4 linked regions of the Homo sapiens genome follow. The protein of the gene in region 1 purifies or fractionates together with the protein of each later gene. This does not show direct contact. Each region holds a gene or a part of one and is shown in the gene's direction. Other genes may lie near its edges.

Region 1 (6,584 bases):
CTGTGAGTGTAAGTCCATAAGCTTCCAGTTCAGTTGAGAGATACATAATTTTTTGAATTACATATTGTTTTTGTTTTATATTGTTTTACAGTGTGGCCTCACACCACTTTTGCTTGGCGTACATGAACAAAAACAGCAAGTGGTGAAATTTTTAATCAAGAAAAAAGCTAATTTAAATGCACTTGATAGATATGGAAGGTATGGTTATTTCTTTTAATCTGTGTGTTGTTCTAGATTGATAGCAGTCACTCAAGTCATAAATAATAAATTAATAAGATCAAATTATACTTATTGGGACATAGTGATCAGTATCAACACAAATCAGTTAAGTAGAAAAGCAATTATTTGGACTGGGCAACATAAAGAACTGTTTTAGTAGGATTCATCTTCTCTTATTATATTGACTGATGTTATTTGTTGTATGATGTTTTTGGTTACATGATCTTATGTTAGCTAAAGGGATTTCATATTAATTTTATGAAGTTTGAACTTTAACTTTCAGTTTACTTTATGACTCAGTATTGAACTTTTTAACCCTTTCTAGTAGGTTTTAACCTCTGTATCTTATATGCTTTTCCACTAAATATGCTGTATTAAACATAAATAGGAGTTGAAAATCCTTTTGTCTTTTCAATGACTCTGCTTTAAGTTGCTTTCTTTGAAGAATATTAATGTTAGCTTATCCCTACATGACAATTAATTGCTATTCCCACATACTGTGGGTTCAACAGCTTTTTTCCTTTTTTATTTCCAGTGTATTTTGATGTTTTTATTTTTAGTTGGTATGGAGAGAGGGAGTGAAGATAGTTTTAAGTGGATACACTTTTCCTTTAATGAAGGCAAGCTGTAGGTGGGTGACAAAGAGAAAAGAGCTACGCTTTGGATTCACACAAGACTGGGTTTAATTCCTAACTTTCTTACTTGCTACGTGTGTGACATTGGGAACGTGATTTACCACCCAATATGTTGTCATATGTGAAAAGTAGGAGAATATATCCTTCAAAGTTGGCTGTGCATAAGCAAGAAAGATACATGTGGCATTTAATTCAGTGCGTAGCACATGCTTATTGGCATCATTAACTGAAACTCCTGTGACTACTATTCTTACCATTATTATTAATATTACTGCTTTCAGCATGCAGAGAGCTCTTATTTATCTTAGCCCCTAGCTAATTTTCTATCACAGCATATCAGTCTAGGGAAGCTGTGACAAAATCTTCACTTAAATCTTTGTCCACTTCAGATAAGTGGCCCTAGCATTGTTTCTTGCCCATCAAAGGACTTTAAATTAGTAGCTTCTGCTATGCAATACCCCACTGAGATAAGAGGTTTCCTTTTTGTCCCTTCCTTTTAACCTTGGTGGTATTTTACAAAGATGAACTCTTGAGCACCCAAGATGCTTATGTCTTTTAGCGCATGTAAATGTTTGATTCTGCATGGACAGGCAAGATGTCAAATTGGTAAAGTATATCAAATTAGCTTTTAAAATAACTTTATTACAGTTTCTAAAGGAGAAATTATCTCTGTAATTTTAGAACTGCCCTCATACTTGCTGTATGTTGTGGATCAGCAAGTATAGTCAATCTTCTACTTGAGCAAAATGTTGATGTATCTTCTCAAGATCTATCTGGACAGACGGCCAGAGAGTATGCTGTTTCTAGTCATCATCATGTGTAAGTGTTTACATGAAAAGGCTAGTTAATGCTAAATTGAGGTTTAAAATAATTATAACAATTGCATCTTACATATCAGGTGAGATGTCATAGTTTGGTTCAGGTAGTTTTAGAGTGGCAGTGAGTTAGTCCCCTGCATCAGCCAGAAATCAGACAAAAAGCAAGACAAGTTAGAAGTACCAATGGGTGCAGGATTCTTTACCTCAGGACTTTTAAGACCTTTATCCTTAGAGATCCCAATATTGTTCATTTCATCCAAGTATAACACCTATGCATGGCATAAAAAAGAGTATCACATCTTTGATTTTTCTGATTAGTTATTTGGGTCTTGAAATGTCCAGTTTAGCAGAAAGCCTTGTACTGTCTTCTGGGGACTGTCTCCTACATACTCCTTGAATTTTTCAAGAACCAAAGGGGTTCACTAAATCCAAGGAAGACAGTCCCTTTTATCAAGTCAGAAGGAGGAGAGAAAAAAGGACATTCCAATCATTCTGTTGTTTCCATTGTTTCTGTTGCTGCATTGTTGCCACTCAAACTGCTTCTGCTGCCTGGTAATTGTTGACCTTTGACACCAAGGTGCCCTTACTGATTCAGATCCCTCAAGTCTTCATGGGGATTCACACAGTGACTTTGAAGTTACAACATTTTTTAGTTCCCTTACCTATGCTTATATGCTCAGCCATTGTTCCCAAAGCACCAGCACCCTGCTCTGGCCGCTGGGCATCCTGACTTTATCCGCACACAAAGTGAGCAAATTGACCCTTCCTCCTGTATTCAGAACCTAATGTGGAACCCACATCTTAGCTAAGAATTAGCTGAGACCTTCATGGTAAGAGATCCTTTCAGGCCGTTGTTGGTCTTTTCTCTAGCAGATATGAGGTGGGCTTGTTATAAAGGGTCAGAGGGGTTCAAATAATGTGGCAGAAAGAGATCAGTGTTTGTTTCTTCTTCTTTGCTACCAGATCTACACAGTGAGGCACCTTTATATCCTGTGTAGAACCTTAGGCAGTAGAAAGTCCCATATGAGCCTTCCCCAAGCAGTGGCTCCCAGCTGTGGTTGGCCCCTTGAGTGATCTGATTTACATGATAATGAAAATCGTCCAAGCTACTTCCATCTCTAGCTCAAGATTTTAAAATATTTTCAAATTGTACCTCACAGGAAGCCATTGAAGAGAATTCTCAGAATCTCACGTGGGTTAAGTAAGTAGTGATGAGTCATGGACAAGAGCCAAGCCTTGCCCATGACTCATCACAAATCATGTGTAAAAGTAGGGCTTTGTGCCTGCTTTGGCGGCACATATCCTAAAATTGGAACAATACAGAGAAAGTTAGCACGGCTTCTGCATAAGGAGGCAGCACAACTCTTTGAAGCATTCCATATTTTGTGCAGTCACTGGAAGATCATTTCACTATTTGCTGGCTAGCTCTAAGGAAACAGTGTGAATCAAAGCAAAATGGGTGCCACCAAAATATCGAAATGTGATTTGTGCTGCAAAAATAGTCATGGAAGATGGTCTGTGAGATGATTTAGAGCTGAATAATGTGTTCAGTGCAAAATATATTATAAGTATGTACGTCAAAAATTAGAGAATGTCAATTTGCAGCTTCTTCATGAAAACTGAAAAAAAATAAAAGTAGAGTTTTGGTCTCCCATGTCAGCTGGAATTGAACATCAATATAAAGCATTATCCTAACAAACATCTGCTGGCTCAGAGTTTGAGTCTGTAGAGAAGGATCATTGCTCCAAGCCAGGTCTTAACATCCATTGGTTTTTCTGCCCTTAGCACAACAAATTGGTCAACTCCGTAATAGTGGACAATCACATTATCTACTTTAATGAGAGATTTATGAAAAAATTTAGTTACAAACTATGACACAGTTGAGATGCCCTGAATGATAAGCCATAAGGAGTAGGACAACTAAGAAGCAAAATTAGGACTTAATAACATTTCCTGAAAACTACAGCATTTGCATATTAGAACCTATGAACAAAATACACATGGGGTTTTATTTGGGATTCCAAGATAATTTTAGTCATAAAGTTTAGGAACAGATTATTCCATTGCTTTACTATTTCTCTGAGCATTTAAAAAATGTTACCTTGTTAAATCTTTATAACAACCTAGTGAAATAAGGCAGCAAAGTCCTCACTTTGTAGAAGAAGACATTGAGCCTAAGAGAAGAAAGTTGTCCAAGAACAAATAGCTGTTCATTATGGAGCTAGGACTTATGCAGAGTTGGGACACTTTCTATTATGTCATGCTAATGCCTGCTGATTTACTGGGTCACAGTGCCCTTGATTTATGAGCATTTCACCTAATTTTTTTTCTTCTTTAATTAGAAGCTTAAAGAAAAGTTTGTAGAATGTACTCATAAGTGTATGGGATAATACTGTTAAATTCTGATATTATGATATTGTTTGAAATACTCTAAGAATCTTACATTTGGTAAGTATTTTTTATATCAGTATTAAAATAGTAATTTGGTTTATTACATTTTTATACATAGAATTTGTGAATTACTTTCTGACTATAAAGAAAAACAGATGCTAAAAATCTCTTCTGAAAACAGCAATCCAGGTAAGACTTGTGATAATGAATTACTTTAGGTCAGTTGTCCACAATGTTTTTGGCATCAGGGACCGGTTTTGTGGAAGACAGTCTTTCCATGGGCTGGGGGAAGGTGGGGATGGTTTCAGGATTATTCAGCCATGTTTCATTTATTGTGCTACTTTATATTATTATTACATTGTAATATATAATGAAATAATTATACAACTTACCATAATGTAGAATCCGTGGAAACTCTGAGCTTATTTTTCTGCAACTAGATGGTCTCATCTGGGGGCAAAGTGAGACAGTGACAGATCATCAGGCATTAGTTTCTCATATGAAGCACACAACCTAGATCCCTCAGATGAGCAGTTCACAATAGGGTTCATGCTCCAATGAGTATCTAGTGCTATCACTGATCTGACTGGAGGCAGAGTTCAGGCGGTAATATGAGCCATGGGGTGTGGCTGTAAGTACAGGTGAAGCTTCCCTGGTTTGCCTGCTGCTCACCTCCTCCTGTGTGGTGTGGTTCATAATAGTCCATGGACTGGTACCAGTCTGTGACCTGGGAGTTGTGGACCCCTGCTCTGGGTGGTCCTACCGTAGATAAAAAAATAAAAGTAAGGAATTTTTGATCACAAAAGAACGCCAAAGCACAAGTCATGTTACATATCCTTGTCCCAACAAGGTCTCACTCTTACTGACTTCATTCCTCCTCATTTGAAGTTGGAAAGAGATACATTTACTTTGTTGGAACAAGATGTGTTCTCTACCTGCTGGTCAATTGTCTTGATAACAGTAATTTTGTTAGAACAAGATGCTCTGCTACCATTTACCAAAAGATTGTCATAATAAATATACAAATTGCCCAACTCTAGGCTCAGCAGATTATAATAAAAGTAGAAAAATGCTTCACATTAACAAAAATACTAGTATGCCACCTGGTTGTGGACACCTAATACATTGTATAATCCAAACTGGATGAGGACACCTTTAATTTAGCCATCTATTTATCAAAAAGCTTCTGTAAGTTAGGTTTTATAAGTTGCAGAAGACAAAGATGGAATAGATGTAGTTTTGATCTTTAAGGTGCTCATAATAGAGGTGTCTCTATTTCATTTCTGTGCTTTTTCAACAGAATTTACAAAGAAAACATTTCTATGTTTTCACTTGTCCACTTAACAAATAACTATCAAATGTCTTTTAGATACTAATCATTTTTCTAATGCTACAGAACACACACAATTAAAAATACAGACAGGAGCTTGTTATTATCATTGTCACTTTTATTATTTTACTACTTTATTCAGTGCTTACTGTGTGCTAGATGCCAACTGGAAGCTTATAATTATGATTTATTATGTATTAATTATGTGCCAGACATACGTGATGAGGAATGAAAGTTTTGAAAAAAAGTAGGTATGATTCAAAGTAAGCATGCAGAGTGAGAAGAATTTTTCTAGGTAAAGAAGCAGAAGAATAATTTTTGGCAGAAGGAACATGCAACAAGTTTGTGTGTTTGCCAGAAGAACATCTGATGAGATTGCCTGTTTGGCAGGAAGAGCAACAACTGCAAAAGACAGGATGCCGAGTGAACTTTGCAGGGTTTCTGAGCAGTTCACTTTTGCTAGTACCAAAAGTGTGAGACACCAGAGTTTGGGAATGAGGTGAATACTTAGCTAAGGCAAGTTTATGATAGACTTTTTTAATACTATAGAAATGAGTAGGTCTTACCCTGTGGGCCATGGGAAATTTACCAGGTAGAATGCTTTGGACTGTAAATACTAGATGAGCAGTGGCTAAAACAGTAGGAACCAGAGTTGTTTTGGTTGTTCAGTGATATCCTAGGATCCCATTTGTCCCTCTTTCAGCTGTGCTGTTGGCAGTGTTTTCTTCATGTTTCCTTTCATGGTTGGCTAATCCGCAGCAGCTCCAAACATCTTGTTCTCACAACACAACATTTCAAGGGCTGCTTTTCTTCACATGTGTCTTTTAAACAGGGAGAAAACTTAGAAGCATGCAAGGGGCTTCCTGTAACATTTCATTGGCTGGGTCACACCACATGCTCATTCCCAAACCAGGCAATGGGATGGCAAATACATGATTAGCTTAGAATAAACATTTCTCTTTCTGAGGCTGAGGAGGGGGATTGGGATAATAAATATCCCAATAGACTTGTGTTTCTTCTGCAAGAAAGAATAAGGAATGGCTATTGATAGGAGCCAACAATGTGTGCTGCAGGGGCTCATTGGAGAAATTTGAGCAGGGGAGTTACAAGATTAAATTTGAATATTAAGGCATATTCTGCTTATGGTGTAAAATGGGTTAGCAAGCTTTTTCTGTAAAGGACCAGGTGGGA
Region 2 (5,331 bases), on another chromosome or scaffold:
TATGTCCCCAGCGCCAGGAGAGAAATGGTTTCATCTCAGTAACCAGGGCTAGGGTAAACTTACACAAGTAATCCAAGACAGTGGATAAATCAAAACCACCTACCACTTCCCCCAGAGGACTTAGCCCTGTAATTCTGTTTGGTTCCAGCTTTTAGAATGTACAGTGATCAAGCAATGAGTCATTGTGGGGGTGGAAGGTATAAGAATTTACCATCTACCTCAATTAATCCTCCAGCTGAAATTGGAGAGGAGACTGCAGCCGTTTGGGGATGGGGGGATGTGGATGTGAGGTACTAGCCTGCAGGAGGAGGGAGAGGGATCCAGAGATGAGACCCCACTTGAGTTACAACCCTAAGGGGCCATTAGAAATTCCCTGGCCTTGACCTCTGGCTTCAGCAGCCCTGCTGTGCCCTGGGGCCCCAGCTCAGGTTCTAATGGCTCCTCATTTACCCTCATTAAGCTGTCAGCCTGGAGACCATGCCAGGCCACAGGGCAGAGGGACAGGGCCACAAATGCCAAAGCAGCTACCTTGGCAGGTCATTTACCCTGAGATTTCTCTGCCCACCCCACAACCCCAACCAGACTTCACTTCCTGCCATTCCCAACCCCCAGCTTAAGGTAGGAGAATGGCCATATGGCTTTGGTGTGGTGGTAGTTTCCCCATTCTCTGCCTCAGTTTCCCCATCTTCCTTCCACCCAGGATTGTTTTAAGATGAACCTATGGTTAGATTAGCATAAAGCATGGTCTGAACATCAGAGATGACATAGCTGTTTGTGTCGACTGCTCATGTTCCCAGCCCCCCAGGGGTTGGGCTTCTGTGACCTCCAGCCTCCAGTTTTGGTTCTCCACCAGTCCTGGCACTTGGGAGGGAGCTGACCTGCAGCTGCTAGCACAGACAACCCTGGGCATCTGACACTCTATAAATAACCAAGGCCCAGTGCAGCTGGAGGCAAGATTGGAAACCCAAGTTGCTGGTGGGGGCTGGAGGGGCAGGGGGGACAGGGACAGAGCTGGGGAGGCAGAGCCGCAGCACCAGGAGCAGATAGGAAAGACTGCCCAAGCTTCCTGGTGACCTTGAACACAGCACTCAACTTACATGGTGCCTCAGTTTCTCCCTCTCTCTTGCTTCCCATTTTTCTAATGGGGACAGTAGTGCCTGTCCTGTGGTTAGAGAGCCGCCCCCGTAACTGGGAAGAGCTTGAGAGGCAGGAAATGGCACATATCAGTCCCATGATGAGGACCCCAGGACTTCCCAAACTTTCCAGAGTCTTTTGTCACCCCACCATCATGCAGAGTTTTTCTTTTACAGTCTCACCTCTCTCTAGGGTAGTACTCCAATGTCCCCCACAGTGATTCTTCCCAACCCCCAATGCTGTCCCCAGAATGCTTCCACACTGTCATCCGGCCCTGTGCCCATGATGGGCTCTTGTCACTCTAGGTGGCCAAGCTCCAGGTGCCTTCAGCACCTGGAAGACAAGCTACCATCTACTCTCTATATATGGTGCTGTTTCTCCTGCCCTACAGTCCGACCAAGGACCTGCTTCCTATGCTGTGTCCAAGTGCTGCCCCCAGCCCCTCCCCCCACCTCCTTTCCCTACACAGGTCCTCTCTCCTTTCCACTCTGAAATCTCAGGGTCTCTGTGTCCTTGTTTTTGACAGAGAAAGGGGATAACCTAATATTTATGGAATGTGGACCCTGTGCAGGCAATGTACTCAGTGCTTTCTGCATGTTATTTTACAATTTCCCAAACTTGGCTTATCATCAGAATCACTCGGGGGCTTTAAAAAAAAAAGAGAAGATTCCCAAGCCCCCGCCCTACACATCCCAATTCAGTGGATCTAGCATGGAGTAAGAGAACCTGTTTAGTTTTATGAGTCTCACCGAAGGTCCTGTTGATTAACTGAGTATTAAAAGCAGTGGATTATCTCAGAACAGCCTTAAGAAGGAGGAACTGTTATTGTTAACTCCAACTTGTGAAGGAGGAAACTGAAGCTTAGAGAGGCTAAATAAGTTGCCCACAGTTACACAGGTGTTGAGTGGCTGAGCCGTGGCTCAAAGACAATCTGACTCAGAGCCGATGCTCTTAACACGTGGCTGCCCTGCTCCTCTCATTTTCCTTTACTGGCGCTCGCCTTGCTCTGCCCTTTTTCTCAGTGTTTGACCAGTTTTTATGGATTTTTTCCAAAACCTCCATGGTTTTGCCTCCTACTGCAAGCCCAGGGGCTGAGTAGACATCCCTCACACTGCCCCTGCATTGCCCCCAGCTCTCTGCTGGCCTTGGCAGGGAGCCCCTTGCTACAGCCATGGGTATTCCTTATAGGCCTGCCTCTTGGGCTTCTTGCTGGGAGTCTGCCTTACAGCTGATGACAGATGACATCACTGAACTTGATACTTTTTTTTTTTTTTTTTTTTGAGATGGGATCTTGCTATGTTTCCCAGGCAGGGCTCCTGGGGTCAAGCTGAACTCCCGCCTTAGCCTTCGGAGTAGCTGGGATGACAGGCATGCACCACCATGCCCAGTATCACTGAGCTTGATTCTGTGACGGGCTATTCTTAGCAGCAGTGATGTCTGGTTGGCCTGATTCTCCTCCCATCCCCTTACCTGGGCCAGGCTTTGCTGTGTAGGAATCAGAGCTGCATCAGACCTGGCCCCAGCACTTGAAGTGCTCCCACAGGGAACAGGAGGACTTGTGTGCAGGTGACCTTTGGGAGACTAACTGTGCACAGTGCAGGAGAGGCCCTGCAGCAGGGGAGCGGAGCTTGTCAAGCAAGGAATGCATGTATTTTTTTGTTTTTTTGAGATGGAGTTTCGTTCTTTTTACCCAGGCTGGAGTGCAGTGGCACGACCTCAGCTCACTGCAACCTCCGCCTCCTGGGTTCAAGTGATTCTTGTGCCTCAGCCTCCCAAGTAGCTGGGATTACAGGCATGCGCCACCATGCCTGGCTAATTTTTTATTTTTAATAGAGACAGAGTTTCACCATGTTGGCCAGGCTGCTCTCAAACTCCTCACCTCAGGTGATCCACCCGCCTCGGCCTCCCAGAGTGCGGGGATTACAGGCGTGAGCCACCATGCCCGGCCTGAATGCACATTTTTTACTGGAGCACAGTCTGGGCAGAAGATGATTGGTTGGGGAAAAATCACATAGAATGTCTAGAAACCAGGAAGCCTCAGTTCTTTCTGAGAAGAATCTCGCCATCCTCTGGAGCCTCTCTGATCCTTATCCAAGGCTAACAAGGCCTTTTTGACCCCTGACCTCTGACCCACAGGCTGAGGCAGATGTGGCCTCCCTGAACCGCCGCATTCAGCTGGTTGAGGAGGAGCTGGACCGGGCCCAGGAGCGCCTGGCTACAGCCCTGCAGAAGCTGGAGGAGGCCGAGAAGGCGGCTGATGAGAGCGAGAGGTGGTCAGGGGCCTCGGGGAGGATGGTCCGGGAGGGAGAAGGGAGCCTGTCTCTGCTGGTCCTGACCCTACGCTCACCCTCTCCCTGCCTTTCAGAGGAATGAAGGTCATCGAAAACCGGGCCATGAAGGATGAGGAGAAGATGGAACTGCAGGAGATGCAGCTGAAGGAGGCCAAGCACATCGCTGAGGATTCAGACCGCAAATATGAAGAGGTGACAGCCTTGCCCCTCTGCCTGCTCGCTGCCCAGCCTGCAACATGCCCAGTCCTTCTCCACTGATCTACCCTCTCTTTCTCACTCCCCACAGGTGGCCAGGAAGCTGGTGATCCTGGAAGGAGAGCTGGAGCGCTCGGAGGAGAGGGCTGAGGTGGCCGAGAGGTAAAGATACCCGGGGGTGACAAGTGAGCCCATTGGCCCTGGGGCCTTCCACACAGTGGGAAGGTAGCATCCTAGGCTTGGGGCTGTAGGGACAGGCCCTGTTCTCTGACCCCTGCCCGCTGCCCCCAGCCGAGCCAGACAGCTGGAGGAGGAACTTCGAACCATGGACCAGGCCCTCAAGTCCCTGATGGCCTCAGAGGAGGAGGTAGTGACCCCTCTGAACCTTTCTGGGCAATGGCGCCTTCTCTCAGCTCACCTTCCCTCCGTCTCAGCACCGCAGGCTGCTCTTTCTCAGCTGCTGGGGATCAGGAAGGGCCTGGGGCTTCTGAGCCCTGCCTGCTGTCACTCTCACAACTTTGCTCTTCTCTTCTCTCCTCCACCCGTCCCCTGCTGTGCCATCTCCACTGTCTGGCTTCGCTGTGCCCTCACACCCTGCCCCCCCCGCCACACACCCCCTGCAGTAAATGTGGGGACCTAGAGGAGGAGCTGAAAATTGTTACCAACAACTTGAAATCCCTGGAGGCCCAGGCGGACAAGGTAGAGGGGAGCAGAGGGGCAGTGAGGATGGGGTCCCACAGGGGAGGGAGGTGAGGGGCCCAAGGCAGGGAGGGGCTGGGTGTTCAACGGAGGCAAGATGACCAGGAGCCTACGGGGTACAATGGAGAAATGAAGGATCTGTGGTAGCGCTGTACTGATGGCGTGTGTGTGTCCCCAAAAGTATTCCACCAAAGAAGATAAATATGAAGAGGAGATCAAACTGTTGGAGGAGAAGCTGAAGGAGGTGAGAGTCCTCTTCCAGTTCCCAGTCTCCCCTCAAGCCACCCTAATCCTTGCCAGAGACGGCCTGTGGCAGGACACTTGAGGGTTGGGATGGACAAGAAGCTTGACTTAGGCAGTAGTCTGTGGGAGGGCCTAATTCTTTGCCATTTCTCCCATCCTGCCTTTACCCCCAGGCTGAGACCCGAGCAGAGTTTGCCGAGAGGTCTGTGGCAAAGTTGGAGAAAACCATCGATGACCTAGAAGGTAAAAGAAGCCTTTATAAGTAGGTCCACACCTGCCGTGATTATCAGTCTGTCCTGTACCTTCTCATCCCATTTTATTTGCCACCAATAAACTAGGGTTGGGCCACCTAGGACCCTACCAACTCCCCAACTCTGTGGGCCATGTCTACAATTCAAGTAATTGTAGCTGCCCACGGCGCAACAACTCCAGTGCTTCTCAAACTTCAGCATGCATGAGAATCACTGGGAGAGTTTTAAAAACAGATTCCTTGACTCTGCCCCAAAGAGATTGCTGACTTTGGGCTGGAGGATTTACATTTCTAGCTAGTTCTCTGGTACTGCCAATGCTGCTGGTCCTCATGCCACACTCTGAGTGGCACCCTTATAGACAATTCCGTCCCCGAGTGTAACGCAGTAGAGTTCTAGTGCAGAGACTGGCTTATTAACTAGAGAGCTGTTGGACTGAACATCTAGGTCTGCATGACAGCACTAATAGAAAACACTATTTTAAGCTAGATTTGACAAAAGCAAACATCCAGATATTTGTG
Region 3 (6,046 bases), on another chromosome or scaffold:
GTTGCCCTTGACTAGGCTTGAACCTGCCATGCACAGAGGTTGGCAGTTTTTAGTTGTGAATGTAGACAGTACATGGGTAAGGCAGAGCAGCTCCGTGTCCTCCTCTCAGCATCGTAGTGTCTCCTGGTAAGTTTTCGTGTGTCCTCTCCATGCCTCACCTTGTTCATGTGTGTGTGTTCTGTTTCCTGTTTCAGGAGTCTTGTGGATACCGTATATGCATTAAAGGATGAAGTTCAAGAATTAAGACAGGTACGTCATAATCCATCTTTAAATCTTTTTTTTCTTTTCAAATGGGAGAAAAGAAGAAAATTACATTAAAAATAAGCTGGCTGGGTACGGTGGCTCACACCTATAATCCCAGCACTTTAGAAGGCCGAGGTGGACAGATCACCTGAGGTCAGGAGTTCAAGACCAACCTCACCAACATGGCAAAAACCCATCTCTACTGAAAATACGAAAATTAGCTGGGCATAGCGGCAGGTGCCTGTAACCCAGCTACTTGGGAGGCTGAGGCAGGAGAATTGCTTGAACCTAGGAGGCGGAGGTTGCTGTGAGCCGAGATTGTGCCACTGCACTCCAGTCTGAGCCACAGAGCAAGACTCCGTCTCAAATAAAAATAAAAAGCTGATTGTCCATAAGCAAAAAACTAAAAGGAGGTCATGTCTTTGAGAAGTCCAGCAGATAAAATAATTGGTTGTCTCTAAAGTGACTTGTTTAAACTCTTTTTTTTTTCTTAACAATACTGATTTTGATGTCATAAAACATCGCAAATTCTGTTGGAAGAATAATTTAAAATATCGAAAGTTCTGTCTGGTGACAAATCCTGCGAGGCGCCCCTGAGATTAGCCTCTGCCACTGCATGGTCCTTGGCTCCCGAAGCCAGGTTAGCGAGCCAGAAGTGGCGACTAACCAAGGGTGTTCTGGGTATTGCACGGAATGTGAGTATGAGCAGCTTTGGTCCTCTGCCCAGCTAGGCGAGGGAAGGTTGGGGTGTTCATTGCACGGAATGTGAGTACGAGCGGCTTTGGTCCTCTGCCCAGCTAGGTGAGGGAAGGTTGGGGTGTTCTTTTGGCCGAGGAACAGCCTGAGAAGAGTTGTGGTCTGGGATAGAGAGCTGAGAGCAGGTTGCTGTGTGGAACTGGACATGTGCTGTCATTCTAAGCAGTGTCCGCAGGTCTTCCAGGTACACCTTTGCCTGGCTGGCAGGCTTCCATGTTCACGCTTTGCCCCTACCGGCAGCAGGCATCTGTTTGTGCATGCCTCCTACGTCCGAGACATGCCTGGGTTCAGCTGCACAGAGCAGGTGCTCGCCCACTTGCTCCTGCACCTGTCAGTGGCTGTTACTTCCAGTCCTTTCTGTAACTCTGGAAGGTGGTTATAAATGGACAAAAAGGCTGGATAGGAGCTGTCTCGTCCGCAGTTTCCAGCTATTTTCTTACGGTATGTTCTATAGAGATTCATTCATGGACTTAATAAGAGCCATTAGGACCATTTCCATCCCGGGAACAGCAGCACAGTCAGGAGCACCGCTGCCACCCTGTCCAGGTGTTTGACCTTCGTGGATCCCCACGACCTCAGAGCCCATAGGCAGCTCACGTGGGATTTCATGAATCGAGGCCTTAGCTCCTCAAGGATACACATTTGGGGAAAGGAAGCCCTACGCGATGCCAAAGATAGTGAACACCCTGTGGTCTGCTTAATTTACAGGACAACAAAAAGATGAAGAAATCTCTAGAGGAAGAACAGAGAGCCCGCAAAGACCTGGAGAAGCTGGTGAGGAAAGTCCTGAAGAACATGAATGATCCTGCCTGGGATGAGACCAATCTATAAGGGATGTCCTCAGTTCTTTCTGTTGAAGACCAGTTCTGAGGTGAAGCTGGGCACCCCTGACCCAAGTCGGGGTGCACTCAGGACCACAGGGCAGGGCTGGGTGGGGCGCCACCTTGCTCTCTGTATATAGAAAAGCTGGAGCTTATTCTGCGAATGGAGACGATCAAACCATGACTGATGAATCCAGACAGGAGGGATTGACTCTGAGGACCTGAGCTACATCAATCCACTCTGTGAACATCTCAGTTACCTCATTCTGCAATAAGTTCAGTGACTGACTAAAAGTCTTGTTTTTCCAGACTTTGAATTGAATATATAAATATTATATATACATGTTTCTTGTAAATATCCCATTTTGAATGCATACCTGTGGTGGTTCTGTCCGGGCTAATCCCCATGCTAGAATGTCCTTTCCAGCTACGTGAATAAGAAGTCCCATGCCCGCATCCACCGGAAGCAGAAGCCTGGTGGATGCCTGGTTCGTTCCGCAGCACCAGGGCCTCCACCGTGCTGTGGCAGCACCCCCCATGTCGGTATTTCTAAATAACCTTATTTATACCTGCAGAGATACACTTCAGTCCCATTCAGAAGTCTTCTCTTAAAGCAGCATTACAGTCCCAGACCTGCGGGTTTCTGAGGGCAACTTGCTGGCTGACAGACTCAGTCTTGACCTCAAGGAAGGCCCATACGGCACTGCCGCATCCACCTAGAGGTGTTTGCTCTTGTCCGCTGTCTGAGTACTGTGATTCTCAGATGAGTTTGCTGCGTTTTGGGAGGACACAGACGGTTCTGTATAGGCTAGTTCAGTAACAACAAAATACACTGTTTTGTCTTCCCTCAAAGAGAGATCTTACTAGAACCTGTAAATAGAATGTATTATTTATTATAAGTCACTGCAGCTGATGAAAACAGATGGAGGCCATGCTGCAGGCTGATACTGATGGGTGGAGTTTTGTCATCAGGCCAGCCTCATCCCGAGGTCTCCTCCACCATTGGCCGTAGCCAGCAGGCTTCAGTGCTCACCGAAAGTAAAATCCCCTCCTTCAGCAAGAATAAAGCAATATACACCTTAGGTTCCACTAAGTAACATAGGCATAAGCAGGGAACGTTTCCCCCACTGTGTTCCAGTGCAGAGGAGACGAAGCCTGTCCTCACCGCGGCTCGCTGGGCCCAGGCTGGCTCTGGAAAGCCTGTGCGGTCCTGGGCAGGAAGCCCGGCCCGTGGAGCAGGTTTTCGTTCTGCTTCAGCAATAAATAAGGGTGACCACAGGGACTTTGCTTTTGGTTTCCTTTCCTGTGAAAAGGTTGGTTTTAAAGTGAGATACACTTTTCCGTAGAACAAGTGTTCTATCTTTAAAAACCCAAATTGCAGCACCGTGGATTACTGGTCTCAGAACAACTCATTGCGCATCAGATTTGACTCTCTGATTTTCTGTCTATTGGCCAAATTGCCCTTTAACTGCACCTGAATCCTTTGTGTACTGATGCCTTTGAGCTGGGCACCTTGGGAGAGTGTTGTGTTGCTGTTTACGGTTCTTCCTTGCCCTTGCTAATTACAGTCTCTGGTGCCCAGCAAGCCCCTTTGGCTTCCTTCCGTGACTGGTCACGTTGTCTGCCTGGGCTCAGCGTGGACCTGCCCCATGCTGCAGAACCTGGCCTCACCTGGACTTTTCACTAGAATTGCCAGCTTCCTCAACTTAGCAGATCATTCACTCATGCGGGCACAAGCAAAGATCAACACTTTCTTTTTTGGTAAGCTTGAGTTTTACAAGTTATTTTTTGGTGATGCGTAAGACATTGCAGTGGGAAACCATTCAACTTGAGTTTATTGGAGTTTGCTGTTGTAGCAGGTTTTAACTCAGGAACAACTCTTGTCTGATCTCTCCGCCCCTCTGCCGGGAGGCGACATTAACTGTCCTCTCGGAGCCGGTAGCGTTGCTGTCCGAGTCCCCAGGACGGATCTCCTGCAGACCTGCCTTAATGCTCAGATCGAAGTATTTCACAAGAATACTTGTGTTTTTAACAGCCCTTCCCCTGGACGGTGCGGCCATGAGGGCCTCATGTTACGGCATTGCCTTTTCTTTCTGTGGATCCAGTATCTTCCTCGGCTTTTTAGGGAGCAGGAAAAATGCGTCTGAGAGCAACTCTTTTTAAAAACCTGCCCTGTTGTATATAACTGTGTCTGTTTCACCGTGTGACCTCCCAAGGGGGTGGGAACTTGATATAAACGTTTAAAGGGGCCACGATTTGCCCGAGGGTTACTCCTTTGCTCTCACCTTGTATGGATGAGGAGATGAAGCCATTTCTTATCCTGTAGATGTGAAGCACTTTCAGTTTTCAGCGATGTTGGAATGTAGCATCAGAAGCTCGTTCCTTCACACTCAGTGGCGTCTGTGCTTGTCCACATGCGCTGGGCGTCTGGGACCTTGAATGCCTGCCCTGGTTGTGTGGACTCCTTAATGCCAATCATTTCTTCACTTCTCTGGGACACCCAGGGCGCCTGTTGACAAGTGTGGAGAAACTCCTAATTTAAATGTCACAGACAATGTCCTAGTGTTGACTACTACAATGTTGATGCTACACTGTTGTAATTATTAAACTGATTATTTTTCTTATGTCACAGAATGTGTCGCTTCGTCTTCTTTGATGTGTTTTCTGTGTGCTTGTTAGCTTTACAGTTTCTTTGGGCTGTTTTAGATTTGAAAATTCTGTCTGTCTTTGATACTGAAGATAACATGTTTCCTTTAAAGTCTAGAGTTTGAGAAAATTTGAAGATTTTTTTTTAAAAGACAAGGAAAGAACACTGGAAGTCTTAGGAACAAAAGCTGAAGTAACAGGTCACGCTGGTAGGCACAGCCCCCAGGTCCTCACCCATGCCTGGAGGAATGACCTGCATTCTGGAAGGCGCTCAGGACACCGTTTTGTGGGATCAAGTAAGCGAAACTTTCTTGAAGATATCTGTGGGGTCCCTTTTAGGAGCTGTCATAAGACAAAAGGAAATTGCTCGTGTGTGTCCCTGTGTGGCGGTGGTGCAAACGAGGGTGTCTTCCGGAAGGGTGGCCGGGAGGACCAAGCGGGGTCTCCTGTCCATGGTCCGTGTACCTGGCTCAGGTGTGTCTACAGCTCCGCTGCATGTCATTTCAGCCAGCCAGAGGTCAGGTAGCCACACGCAGTGCCCAGCCCACTGGCTTATTGTAGGAGCTCAAAAGAAGTCAGGATCTACACTTTCAAGGACTTTAGTCATTTCAGGTTAAAACAAGTAGGCGTTCAAAAACCCATTTCTGTTGATTTGCATTGTGACAAGAACGTGCGATGCATAAGACACCTAATGTGAATTGTTCATCTTACTGGTGGAGTAGGTAGGCATTTGTACTTGATACCTCACCAGTAATTAAAAACTAGGATGTACCTGAGCCATGTATACCGTTTTTTAACTGTACACTTTTTAAAGGTATACTGGGCCATGTATACTTCATTTTCTTGCAGAACTATTTATATTTTTCCCATAAGCAGGTATTATTTTCCTAATTAAAAACTAGCATGTACCAGAGTTTTTAATTGTTAAAATAATACCTGTTGATACGGAAAATAGAAACAGTATACCAGGATACAAAGTAAAAAGCATGTATTCTGCCTCCCAGCGCCCTGACCCTGTTCCCCAGAAGTAGCTCCTGTTCTGCGTTTAGGTTCTTCTGTTCATTCTTCTGAGCAAATGCCAGTGTGTGGTGTCTGTGTTTTAACTTTTTTCCCAGCAAGTGAGATTGCATTAAGTATATTCTTTCCTAAGTTGCCTCTTTGAACCTTATCTTTCCATATGGGTATATGTAGTTTGAACCATTCATCATTTTTGACCACTGCATAAATATTCCCCTGATTGAGTGCCCTGCAGTTTGTCACCTATGAGTGGATATTTGGGAGGGGGCAGTCGCTATTGCAGAAATGCTCTACTGAATATCCTTATGTATACAGCTGTGCAACTGTGCACATACAGCTAAATGATTAACTTCTGGAAACGTTTGTGCATTTTTAACTTTGATAGAATTTGCCATATTTTTACAAGGTGTTTTGGAAATGACAGCCTTGGCAATTGTACAGTTCTAGTTTCTCAAAGAAGGAATGGGGCCATGATGGCATGGGAAGCATGCTCTTCGTTGTGATGCTTTCCCATGGAAGCCGTTGACTCCGAAACATGCTCTTCGTTGTGATGCTTTCCCATG
Region 4 (6,584 bases), on another chromosome or scaffold:
CAGGTTTTGAAATGATCTTTGTTGGCTGGGCGAGGTGGCTCATGCCTGTAATCCCAGCACTTTGGGAGGCCGAGGCGGGTGGATCACGAGGTCAGGAGATCGAGACCATCCTGGCCAACATGGTTAAACCCCATCTCTACAAAAAAATAGAAAAATTAGCTGGGCATGATGGTGCGCGCCTGTAGTCCCAGCTACTCGGGAGACTGAGGCAGGAGAATCACTTGAACCTGGGAGGTGGAGGTTGTGGTGAGCTGAGATCACGCCACTGCACTCCAGCCTGGGGACAGAGCGAGACTCTTGTCTCCAAAAAAAAAATAAATAAATAAAATATGTTTATCAAAATGTAGTAGCATTTTTACAGTTGCCTTTTTGTATAGAAAATTTTATTTCAATGAGGTCAAGAAATAGAAAAGGGAAAAGAGGTGTCTTTTTTTTTTTTTTTTTTGAGACGGAGTCCTCCTCTGTTGCCCAGGCTGGAGTGCATCGGAGCCATCTCTGCTTACTGCAACCTCCGCCCCCTGGTTCAAGCAATTCTTCTGCCTCAGCCTCCCGAGTAGCTGGGACTACAGGTGTGCGCCACCATGCCTAGCTAATTTTTGTATTTTTAGTAGAGACAGGGCTTCACCCTGTTGACCAGGCTGATCTTGAATTCCTGGGCTCAAGTGATCCACCAGCCTTGGCCTCCCAAAGTGCTGGGATTACAGGCATGAATGAGGTGTCATTTTTACTTTGAAGATACGTGTTAAGTTTTTTTCTTCACTGACCTAGTAACACAATACACTTAATATGGCATGAGTTTTGGTTGCTGGAAAAACTGGTTAAAGTTTGAAGGGTCCAGAAGTGGGAGAAAAAAAACTCACTTGCCAAATGTGTTGAGTCAGCATTAACTAACACTTTAGCATAAAAGGGCAAGGTTTAGGATGAGATGATTGAAATGAGAAATGCTTTTTTTCACTAGGTACTTGGAAATTTTACTTTAAAAAAAAGCCTACTCAGACCATTGGAGAGATTTAATTAGTAAATCATAAATGTTGGCAACAAATTAAGTAGGTTTAGAAGGAAGAAGTCATTTTTTTAAAAGATGAGGAAAAAATACATGTGACTTTTGTAATTTATAAATAAAAACATCTTATTATTTATTTATTTATTCTTTTTGAGACAGAGTCTCACTCTGTCACCCAGGCTGGAGTGCAGTGGTGCCATCTCAGCTTACTACAGCCTCTACCTCCTGGGTTCCCGCGATTCTTGTGCTCAGCCTCCCGAGTAGCTGGGACTGCAGGCGTGCACCACTGTACCTGGCTACTTTTTGTATTTTTAGTGGAGACGGGGTTTTGTCACGTTGGCCAGGCTGGTCTCGAAATCCTGACCTCAGGTGATTCACCTGCTTCAGCCTCCCAAAGTGCTGGGATTATAGGTGTGAGCCACCGAGCCTGGCTAAAATATTTTAAATCTTTCAAAGATATGTAAAGATGTTACGTGTTTTCTCAACCTAAAAATAAACTTCGCTGGCCAGACCTGGTGGCTCATGTCTGTAATCCCAGTACTTTGGGAAGCCAAGTCAGAAGGATCACTTGAGGACAGGAGTTTGAAACCAGCCTGGGAAACACAGTGGGACTCTGGCTGTACGAATTTTTTTTTTGAGACAGAGTCTTGCTCTGTCACCCAGGCTGGAGTGCAGTGGTGCGATCTCGGCTCACCTCAACCTCCGCCTCCTGGGTTCAAGCGATTCTTCTGCCTCAGCCTCCCAAGTAGCTAGAATTACAGGCGCCCGCCACCATGCCCAGTTAATTTTTGTACTTTTAGTAGAGATGGGGTTTCACCATGTTGGACAGGCTGGTCTTGACCTCCTGACCTCAGGTGATCCACCCACCTCGGCCTCCCAAAGTGCCGGGATTACAGGCATGAGCTACCGCGCCTGGCCCAAAATTTTTTAAAGTAGCTGGGTTGTGGTGTCTTTGCCAGTAGCCTTAGCTGCCTGGGAGCCTGAGGCAGGAAGATCACTTGAACCCAGGAGTTCAAGGCTGCAGTGAGCTAAGACTGTGCCACTGCACTCCAGCCTGGGTGACAGAGATAGACTGTCTCAAAAAAAAGAGGTAAGTAAAAAACGCTTCTTTTGCTTCCTTTTAAGACTGAACACTTTTTCAGTTGTTTAGTTTTGAGGTTTAGTTAAATAGGTTCACTAACTTGAGCTGTAAAAACACTAATGGAACTCCTTTTACTTTGAGTTGTACAACTGTATAATCATTTATATAAGTTAGCTCTTTCAACCAAATACACATTGAGTATCTCTTATCTGAAATGCTTGAGACCAGAAATGTTTCATATTTTGGATTTTTTCAGATTTTGGAATATTTGCGTTACACCACTTGTACATCCCTAATCCTAAAATCCAAAATCTGAAACACTTGCAGAGCATTTTTTTCTTTTCTTTTTTTTTTTTTTTTTTGGTTACGGAGTCTCGCCCTGTCGCCCAGGCTGGAGTGCAGTGGCGCAATCTCGGCTCACTGCAAGCTCCGCCTCCCGGGTTCATGCCATTCTCCTGCCTCAGTCTCCAGAGTAGCTGGGACTGCAGGCGCCCGCCACCACGCCTGGCTAATTTTTTGTATTTTCAGTAGAGACGGGCTTTCACCATGTTAGCCAGGATGGTCGTGATCTCCTGACCTTGTGATCTGCCCGCCTCAGCCTCCCCTGCTGGGATAACAGGCGTGACCCACCGCGCCCGGCCTTGAAGAGCATTTCTTCAAGCATCATGTCAACAATCAAAAAATGTCAGGTTTTGGAGAATTTCAGATTTTGGATTAGGGATGTTTACCCTATAGTGTTTACCCTGTAGTGTTACATCATCTGTTCTATGACAGTCTTAATTTTAACCCCAAATTTTAACAGATTATGAATGAATTTACGCTTCAATATTTCTCTCAATGCTTAGTTAAGTACTGTACATACTCACGTAAGTGTACATAGGAATTTTTTGTTTTTACTAAAGAGAGATCATATTATTTATATTACTCTATGACACGCTTTTTTTTTTTTTTAACATGTCATGGTCAGTAAATATAATTCTTTTTTTTTGTTTGTTTGTTTTTTTTGAGATGGAGTCTTACCCTGTCACCCAGGTGGTGGGAATCTCCGCCTCCTGGGTTCAGTGATTCTCCTGCCTCAGACTTCAGAGTAGCTGGGATTATAGGCACCTGCCACCACACCCAGATAATTTTTGTATTTTTAGTAGAGATGAGGTTTCGCCATGTTGGCCTGGCTGGTATCAAACTCCTGACCTTAAGTGATCTGCCTGCCTTGGCCTCCCAAAGTGCTGGGATTACAGGCATGAGCCACCGCGCCCAGCCAATATAATTCATTTTTGTTTTGTTTTTTTGAGACGGAGTTTTGCTTTTGCTGCCCAGGCTGGAGTGCAATGGCGTGATCTCAGCTCACCGCAACCTCCGCCTCCCAGGTTCAAGTGATTCTCCTGCCTCAGCCTCCCGAGTAGTTGGGATTACAGACATGTGCCACCATGCCCCGCTAAGTTTGTATTTTTAGTAGAGATGGGGTTTCTTTCTTTTTTTTTTTTGAGACGGAGTCTCGCTGTGTTGCCCAGGCTGGAGTGCAGTGGCGCGATCCCAGCTCACTGCAAGTTCTGCCTCCCAGGTTCACGCCATTCTCCTGCGTCAGCCTCCCGAGTAGCTGGGACTACAGGCACCCACCACCACGCCTGGCTAATGTTCTGTATTTTTAGTAGAGATGGGGTTTCACCATGTTAGCCAGGATGGTCTCCATCTCCTGACCTCGTGATCTGCCCACCTTGGCCTCCCAAAGTGCTAGGATTAAAGGCGTGAGCCCCCGCACCCGACCCGAGACGGGGGGGTTTCTCCATGTTGGTCAGGCTGGTTTTGAACTCCCGACCTCACATGATCCTCCCACCTTGGCCTCCCAAAGTGCTAGGATTACAGGTGTGAGCCACCGTGCCTGGCCAATATAATTCTTTTTTTTTTTTTTTTTGAGATGGGGAGTCTTGCTCTATCACCCAGGCTAGAGTGCAGTGGTGCGATCTCGGCTCACTGCAAGCTCCACCTCCTGGGTTCACGCCATTCTCCTGCCTCAGCCTCCCGAGTAGCTGGGACTACAGGCGCCCACCACCACACCCGGCTAATTTTTTTGTATTTTTTTTTTTAGTAGAGACAGAGTTTCACCATGTTAACCAGGATGGTCTTGATCTCCTGACCTCGTGATCCACCTGCCTCGGCCTCCCAAAGTGCTGGGATTACAGGCGTGAGCCACCGTGCCCGGCAATATAATTCTTTATTATTATTTTTTTAAAAGATGACATTTTGCTATGTTGCTCAGGCTGATCTCGAACTCCTGGGCTTGAGCAATCTGCCTGCATCGGCCTCCCAAAGTGCTGGGGTTACAGGCGTGAGCCACCGCACCCAGCCAATATAATTTTTTATTATTATTATTATTATTATTATTTTTAAGATGGAACCTCGCTCTGTCACGAAGGCTGGAGTGCAGTGGCGCAGTCTCGGCTCACTGCATGCTCTGCTTCCTGGGTTCACGCCATTCTCCTGCATCAGCCTCCCGAGTAGCTGGGACTGCAGGCACCTGTCACCACACCCCGCTAATTTTCTGTATTTTTAGTAGAATTGGGTTTCACCATGTTAGCCAGGATGGTCTTGATCTCCTGACTTCATGATCCGCCTACCTTGGCCTCCCAAAGTGCTGGGATTACAGGTGTGAGCCACCGCTCCCAGCCTATTAGTTTTTTAATAAGAGATGAGATATAGCTGTATTGCTCAGGCTGGTCTCAAACTCCTGGACTTGAGCAGTCTGCCTCCTGTGGCCTCCCAAAGTGCTGAGATTACAGGTGTGAGCCACTGCACTCAGCCCACAGTAAATATAATTCTATCTTGTTCCTTTAAACAGTCCTATTGTGTCTTATAGCGTGGATGTACCATAATTTATTATTTTCCTGTGGACATTTAGATCATTTCTAGATTTTTGCCACTTAACAAAGTGCTACAATAAATATCCTTGTACATGCCGCCTTATATGCTGATGCTTTTATTTCTGTAGTCTCCAAAGGGGGAATTCTGGGTTAACAGAGAAATATATTTTAAATATTATTATTGCTAGATTACTCTCTAAATAGGTTATCATAATTTTCATCCCAAATAGCAGTAACTTCTCCATATCATGAAACCACTGGGTATAAATACATAGTTTAATTTTTACTAGTCTGCTAGATGATAAATGGGTCATGCAGTTTGTCTTAATTTTAACTTCCCTGTTACTGGGGCTAGCCTTATTTGATACGTATAATAGCCATTGGATTTCCTTTACCGAGAATTGTCTGCTCATGTCCTTGCTTCATTTTTCTTTCTCTTTTTTTTTCCTCCTGTAGGAGCGCTTATGGAATGTTAATTCTTTGTTATATGGCACGTGTATTTTTCTTGTCTTTCATTTATCCTTTTTTTTTTTCCTGGGAGACAGAGTCTCACCCTTGTCGCCCAGGCTAGAGTGCAGTGGTGTGATCTCGGCTCACTGCAGCCTCTGCCTCCTGGGTTCAAGCAATTCTCCTGCCTCAGCTTCCTGGGTAGCTGGGATTACAGGTGCCCGCCACCATGCCCGGCTAATTTTTGTACTTTTAGTAGAGACAGAGATTCGCCATGTTGGCCAGGCTGGTCTCAAACTCCTGACCTCAGGTGATCTGCCTGCCTCTGCCTTCCAAAGTGCTGGGATTACAGGCGTGAGCCACCGCACCACGCCCGGCCTCATTTATCTTTTAATCTTATTTATGTCACAGACATTTTCAGGTAATTATATATATCCCTCTTTTCCTCTTTGGTTTCTGAAACTGTCTTAGAATCCATTCCAGCTGGGTGCAGTGGCTCATGCCTGTAATCCCAGCACTTTGGGAGGCCGAGGCTGGCGGATCACGAGGTCAGGAGACTGAGATCATCCTAGCTAACAAGGTGAAACCTTGTCTCTACTAAAAATACAAAAAAATTAGCTGAGCGTGGTGGCACGCGCCTATAGTCCTGGCTACTCGGTAGGGTAAGGCAGGAGAATTGCTTGAATCTGGGAGGCAGTGTAGAGACACAGTCTCACTGTATTGCCCAGGCTGGTTTCTAACTCATGGCCTCAAGTGATCCTCCCACCTTGGCCTCTAAAGTGTTGGGATTACTGGCGTGAGCCACCGCACCCAGCCTTAACAGTTTTTGATGATAATTTTTCCTTGCTGTAGTGTGTGTCTGTTTGTTCAAGTTTATTTTAGGTCTTTCAACAAATATTTTATAGATTTCGTAGTTTTTTTCGTATAGTTCCTATACCTTTCTTACTAAATTTATTCCTACGTATTTTATTTTGACACTATTGTCAATGGGACTGTTTACCCTCCATTTCTAACTAGTTAATATCAGATACATTAATTAAAAGTAAATATTATACCATCTTTAATTTTCTTTGGACAACTCCCCCACTCTCCTTGTATATCCAGAATTAATAGAACTTGGATTCATGAAGAATATGCTAGGGAAAATTTGTCATCTTAGTATTAAGTAACTTTTTTTTTTTGAGACTGCGTCTTG

What was found.
Region 2: the proteins of POTEB3 (region 1) and TPM2 purify together in Homo sapiens (affinity purification with mass spectrometry; one large-scale study listed by BioGRID and IntAct). This does not show direct contact.
Region 3: the proteins of POTEB3 (region 1) and ARHGEF7 purify together in Homo sapiens (affinity purification with mass spectrometry; one large-scale study listed by BioGRID and IntAct). This does not show direct contact.
Region 4: the proteins of POTEB3 (region 1) and AP1G1 purify together in Homo sapiens (co-immunoprecipitation; 2 studies listed by BioGRID and IntAct, with this or other methods). This does not show direct contact.

The regions. Positions count from the first base shown.
Region 1 is NC_000015.10:21,425,353-21,431,936, reverse strand, and holds part of POTEB3 (POTE ankyrin domain family member B3), read left to right. Parts: intron 1-91; coding exon 92-198; intron 199-1,535; coding exon 1,536-1,673; intron 1,674-2,951; exon of another isoform or gene 2,952-3,058; intron 3,059-4,181; coding exon 4,182-4,252; intron 4,253-5,688; exon of another isoform or gene 5,689-5,909; intron 5,910-6,584.
Region 2 is NC_000009.12:35,683,720-35,689,050, reverse strand, and holds part of TPM2 (tropomyosin beta chain), read left to right. Parts: intron 1-3,270; coding exon 3,271-3,404; intron 3,405-3,499; coding exon 3,500-3,617; intron 3,618-3,711; coding exon 3,712-3,782; intron 3,783-3,911; coding exon of another isoform or gene 3,912-4,243; coding exon 4,244-4,319; intron 4,320-4,500; coding exon 4,501-4,563; intron 4,564-4,735; coding exon 4,736-4,805; intron 4,806-5,331. UniProt on the Homo sapiens protein: Binds to actin filaments in muscle and non-muscle cells. Plays a central role, in association with the troponin complex, in the calcium dependent regulation of vertebrate striated muscle contraction.
Region 3 is NC_000013.11:111,301,284-111,307,329, forward strand, and holds the end of ARHGEF7 (rho guanine nucleotide exchange factor 7), read left to right. Parts: intron 1-194; coding exon 195-249; intron 250-1,707; coding exon 1,708-1,830; 3' UTR 1,831-4,449; downstream 4,450-6,046. UniProt on the Homo sapiens protein: Acts as a RAC1 guanine nucleotide exchange factor (GEF) and can induce membrane ruffling. Functions in cell migration, attachment and cell spreading. Promotes targeting of RAC1 to focal adhesions. May function as a positive regulator of apoptosis.
Region 4 is NC_000016.10:71,797,785-71,804,368, reverse strand, and holds part of AP1G1 (AP-1 complex subunit gamma-1), read left to right. Parts: intron 1-6,584. UniProt on the Homo sapiens protein: Subunit of clathrin-associated adaptor protein complex 1 that plays a role in protein sorting in the late-Golgi/trans-Golgi network (TGN) and/or endosomes.